Regions from separate parts of the Homo sapiens genome. Here region 2 is linked to region 1. The links come from fine-mapping of genetic effects on gene expression. A gene starts in region 1. The other region holds a variant in brackets. All regions are shown on one strand. Distances are from middle to middle. Region 1 holds the start of CDC16 (cell division cycle 16). Region 2 overlaps RASA3 (RAS p21 protein activator 3).

Evidence for each region.
Region 2: its variant is fine-mapped to the expression of CDC16 in substantia nigra (GTEx, PIP above 0.99).

Annotation. Positions count from the first base shown.
Region 1 is chr13:114,233,041-114,235,917 of GRCh38, reverse strand. CDC16 (cell division cycle 16) reads right to left here and starts at 1,021. Exons shown (of 18, transcript NM_001078645.3): 1 at 786-1,021. The coding sequence starts at 833. RefSeq lists a silencer at 703-1,062 and an enhancer at 1,173-1,222.
Region 2 is chr13:113,976,750-113,979,657 of GRCh38, reverse strand. It overlaps RASA3 (RAS p21 protein activator 3), which reads left to right. Exons shown (of 24, transcript NM_007368.4): 24 at 236-1,875. The coding sequence ends at 311. Among named protein-coding and RNA genes, the nearest start is that of C13orf46, 4.1 kb to the right of the region's middle. RefSeq lists an enhancer at 270-770. The variant C/T (reference allele first, on the strand shown) is at 1,586.

The DNA of each region.
Region 1 (2,877 bases):
GAAACCGGGCCTGTCATATTCCTCACTACGTCTCCGTACCGAAGAAAAAGTGATCAGAAAACACTGAATTCAACTGACTCATGGTAAATAAAAACACAGCCCTCCAAATGGACTGCAAACATTTGGCCACGTCAGTTAGCACCCAATTCCGAAAACTCTGCATTACCATGGCTTTTCTTTCCCTTTCTTTCCAATTTCCTGAAAGAGCAAGCATTTCAACAAAAAATAAACAACAATATAGATAAAACTGATGCTGCTGATTCTCGAAGACACTTCTTGCCTTAAACGCTCTCTGCTATTCAAAGGTAGTGCAGAGAACACAGACATAGTTAACGAGAATTTTTAAAGTATTGATTTGAGACAACAGGCTTCTTCACATCTTTATTCACTTAAATTCAGCCCAGTAAAAATTACAACTAAACCTCTCAAAAATGTTTTATTAGCTAGCCCTGCAACTTTCCTCCAAAAATTGTCCTTCAACTTGCACTGAGTAGTCAGTGTTTCCTGGGCACCTCCTCCGCGCCAGGTGCAGAACGAGGCTCAGACCCGACTGAGGCGCCCCGTGCGCTCGGGGGCCTCCACTCCCCGGGCTGTGCCCCTCCCAGCTGCAGGGACCGCTCCCTTCTGGGCGAGGCGGAGACAGCGCTGCTGGCCCCAGATGAAGGCCCAGGGCCGGCCCAGTCCTTCCCCACCAAGAGCCCCGACAACAGTCACCCCAGCCCCACGCCGCGCGGAAAAAGACCCGGCGAGGCCTGGGCCCCGCACCCCGAGTCGGGGCCGCCCACCTGGTCGAGGTACTGCCGGACGCGCTTCCGCAGCCGCTCTAGGTTCATGGCGGCGCGGGCCCGGCCTCACGCCACACTCCGCCGCTAGGCGCGCGCCTCCTGCACCCTAAGCACCCCGCCCCGTGCCCGTGCCCGTGCCTGCAGCCGCCGCCGCCGCCCCAGGACTCGAAGGCCGCGGACTCGAAGGCCGCAGGTCCCCACCCACACCCGCACCCCCCACCCAGGCCCCGTGCACTGCCCAGGCTCTTCCGCTCCAGGCAGGCCCCGCCCCGGAAGTCCACAGCAAACGAATCCCATCTGGCGCGGGAAAACGGACCCGAGTTGTTGGTTCCGATGCCTCTCCTGGCACGTGGGCTTCTGGTTGCCTTGGGGCGAGAGCGCGGCCTCCCTGGAATCGCTGCGGCGCCTCTGGGCATTGGCGAGAGAGTCAGGAGGGCTCGGGGCCGGACCACCCACCCGGGCAAAAAAGCAGGTGGCTGCTGAGCCTTCTTTCCCCAGAATGTAGTCAACATTTTAAAAATAAGAGCAACGCACTCTCATTACAAAAAAAAAAAATTGTGTGCACAAACAGCAAATGAAGTCAAAGACAACCTAGGGAAAAATTTGAAACCTATCACAAAATTCGAATTTCCTTATAATGTAGAGCCAATATTCCCTTTACATATATGTAATAAGTCAGTGGGAAGAGACCAATGGCTCAGGAGAAAGACAGGCAAAAAACAGTTCACAGGGAAAGAAATGCAAATAGACTTTAACATACGAAAGAAAGTCCAACTTAATTCATAATAAAAATTAAAATTAGAGTACCACTTTTCATATGTTAACAAAGATCACAAAGGTTGATGACACTGCTAGCAGGAATGTCGGGAAGCAGGCACCCTCAAGTTTTGTGAGTGGTATTGGTATACTCTCTAGGATGAACGAATTGGAATATCTTCCAAATTTAAAGGTGTTCGTGCTGTTAAACCTAATGATTTTTATTTTGGGAAATATACCATGGATTTGCATTTTTGCATGTGTGCAAAATGACCTGTGGTTTCGTTTGTAATAGCAAAAGATTGCAGACAATTTAAACACCCATGAAGTATGGAACTGAGTAAATAGGTCATGATACGCTCACGTAATGGAATACTCGCTGGCTGTTCAAAAGAACAGTCAGCTTTGCATGGACATTGAACGATCTTCAAGATATAGTATGTGGGAAAAAGCAAGTATAGGATCGTGTTTATCGTATGCCTGCATTTGAGTAAAATACGAATTTAATGATAGGTAGAAAAATCCCTAAACTGTCCCAGGAAGGAAAAATGAGAAAACCGGCATAGCGCAAGGCCTCTGGAAGGAGTGCTGGAAGATGAGAGATGGTAGAAGTGGGAGAGGTACTTCCTTGGATATCTTTTTGTGCTTTTGAATTTCAGTCAATGTGCATATATTACCTTTTGTGAAATTAAATCATTCAAACTTAAAATAATTTAAACTTGAAGCTGTTGGAACTTTGAATTACCTGAGCCTTGAGGGGAATGTGGCTACGCGGCCTAGGTCATGCCACACCCAGCTGTAACTTCTGCCTTTTTCCCTGTAAACAATAAAGACCAAATGGCACCGGAGATAAGACCCCCTCAGATCACTACCCCTCCTCATGGAGTTATAACGCAATCTTCCTTCAAATACAGAGATCCCTAACCAATGGAACCGCTGCGGCGTGTGCCCCTGGTCTCATATGAGAACTGTGGTGATCCTGCTGGAGCTTCTGTCTCCGCCTGGTAAGAGAGACCTGAGCTCCACTTGGAAAGGCTGACCCCATTTGTCCAGGTGGCCATTCTCAGGCTCTGTGCTCAAATACACACTATATGTAATCATATTTCTGAATCTCAATATTAAGGTTGACACTTTTAAAAAGTAAATATAACTTTTATAAATATAAAAACCTAAAAGAGTAAAAAAAATTCAAAGAAGCAAAAAAAAAAAAACTTGCTGTAAAGAATCCCACCCACTCAAAAATTCTCTCACGCTACTGTAAGTAATCTGCCGTGTAATTTTCTATGTGTGTGTATACATATATGACTGGGTAATATTTTGAAGTTGTGTTTAAAAA
Region 2 (2,908 bases), 260 kb after region 1:
GCCACAGGGAGAGCACACGTGCACATGTACTTGCACGCCTGACCCACCTGTGCACACACATCAGAGTCACCGTGGGTGCTTCCGGGGGCACTGTGGTTCCTTTGGCTCCTCTATTTTTTGTGTGGATTGCAGTGTGAGTGTGTCACATTTAGGAACAGGAAAAGCTCCCGCAGCCACGGGTGAGCACCAGGCAACGGGGTCTGTGCCTCATTCCCTCTCCCATCCCCCTTTTCAGGGAGCACCCCATCGGAGACAAGAGCTTCCAGAACTACATCCGGCAGCAGTCCGAGACCTCCACTCATTCCATTTAAAGTCTGCGGGACGCGCCCAGTGGCGCCAGCAAGCTGCCCATGCAAAGCCGCAGCCTTTGGGAGGGAGAAGAGAAGGAAGAGCGCAGAGCCGGCAAAGTGAGATGCACGCCGTCCCGGCCCATAGACAAGTGGCGCTGGGGTTTCCCTCTCCCAGAACCGCTGCCACCACCGCCACGCCCTCCGCAGAAAGCCCACCTGGCCCTGTGGAACGTGTCGTCATTTGATTCTGTGCTTTTTGCTCCTTGTTTGTGGGGATCTGGGGATCAGCTGAAGGATCAGGAAGTGTGGGCTGTGCCCTAGCCACACCACAGCCAGCCTCAGGGAGCCACGGCCCGTCTAGTCGACTGTGACATGCACCTCCGGCCGTGTGTGCGTCAGTCTCGTGCACGTCTGTCTTGCGTGCACGGTGCGTGTGACGCTGGGCTCTGTGGCTCTGTGCCCGGGAGGCCTGCTGGCCCCGCCTCGGCTTTCGGCTTCATCACATTGGGAGGTTCAGAGCATTACTCTCCCACTGTGCCTGCCATCCAGGCAGCCATGGGAGGCGGCCTCCCTGTTCCACTTTCGAGGTTCGTTTGATTCCTGGCTGAGGGGTCAGTTTTATGGCTGGGAGGTGCAGAATTACACAGAAGTCCCAGTCTGAGGATGTCCTTGGTGCTTGGGGGATACGGGTTCTGTCCACAGAGTCCCTTGGAGGGAAAGGTGTGGGCTCCAGCTTCTCCAGGCGTCTGCGGAGCCCACAGTTGAAGCCCACATCGTTTTGCTGTTGAATGGGGTTTAAAATCAGAATTAACATTTGCCACCCCCCGTGGAAGTTTGAAGATTTTAAAAATAGAAATGTACATTTTTCAAGCTGTTTTTCTTTATGTTTTTGAAGGACCATTTTTAATTAGCTCTTTGATACAAAGTAACTCAGAACGTCAAAACCTATACCCACTAAAGGGAAGGCTGCCGGGAAGGCAAATGGAACAGGAATGGAGCCTGTCTCAGGAAGGCCAGCTGCAGGTCCTCCAGAAAATCAAAGAAGGGAAGAAACTCTGAGTTTGAGGTACAGGGGCTTCGGGGTGCAGACGTCCCTCCAGGGCCCATGGTCAGTATTGCACCTGTGTTATGAACCCCCAGATGCTGTGCAGGGCAGGGGCGGGGGCTGCTGTTTTATTGGGGAGGGGAGCATCCTAAAAATGGGGTCCAGGCAGACCCCTCCAGACCTCACACTGCCGAGGAGGCCTTTCCCAAAGGGCGTCCTCCCGGGATGCAGACGGCAGGTGTGTGGGAAG[C/T]GCCGTTTAAATACACAGCACGACGTATCCTTGTACCGACTTCTCCCGGTTCTTGTTTGAAAATACTGTAGTTCAGGCTCTTGATCTAGATGGCAGATAGGAACTTTCTTGTCACAAAAATACTGGAGGAAAATGTTGTAAAAATAGACTTTTGGACACACAGCTGTTGGGGCTGCACTGAGCTGCAATTTTTAACATGGATTTATAACTTAATGTTTCTGTTTATAAAATACTAATGATTTGCAATGTATTTTACTGGCCAATTAAAACAGATGTTTTATTCTTTCTGAGGACTGCCTTGGTTTTCCAGTGGTACCCACTGGGAATTGCACATGTGGGCATTAGGGGTGGGGGGTACAGGGAGGAGGGTGGCACCTGGGGAGCAGGATGACATTGCTGATGCCAAGTGACGTCCCTGGTGATGGGTGATGCTGCTCTGACAGGTGGCACTGCCCTGATGACAGGTCACATTGCTGATGCCAAGTGACATCTCTGGTGACAGGCAGCGCTGCTCTGACAGGTGACAGGTGACATCGCTGGTGACAGTTGACGCCTCATGACGGGCAGCGCTGCTCTGACAGGTGGCACCGCCCTGATGACAGGTGACATCACTGGTGACAGTTGACATCTTTGGTGATGGGCAGCGCTGCTCTGACAGTGGCATTCACCTGTGGTGCCTCAGGTGAGAGTCCGGCCCTGTGATAACCTCAGGAAAGGTGTGTCCACTCAAGGAGTGCTGGGCAGACAGACCACCACGTGCTGCCATCTCCAGGAATGCAGAGGGGGAGGCCACTTGGAGGCCCTGGGAGAAGAGAACGGACTGCGCCTCTAGGCAGGTGGCTGCTGTCCCTCCAGGCAGGAGAGGGTTAAGGGGGGCTCTGGGTGAAGACTCCATGATACGTTGCCTCATTTCTTTATTCCTTTCCTTGCTCCATTTGAATTCCTCTTTTTTGGTAATTCTATTGTGAGTCAGCTCTGGTATGAGAAAAATGAGGAGGTGTGGCTTTGGGGACACCAACCCAGGCCTTTCTCCCAGGGAAGGGTGAGGCTTGGTTCAGCCTGGCCGGCCTCCTTAGTCCATGCTGAGGTGTGGGGTCTGCCCCAGTCCAGGAGTGGCTATGGGTGGTGGACAAACCCTTGCAGGTGGGGGCATCCTCCCCGGGAGGCCAGCCCGTCCTCCTGGAGCCACACTTCCCGGCAGGGCCTCAGGCAGTGTCGGGAGCCAGGGGGCTCCGTTCACACTCTGGGCACAGCTGTGCTGGGGTCAGCCCAGGAGGGCCAAGGTCAGCCCCTCCAAGAGGAAGTAGAAGGGCAAGGAGGACG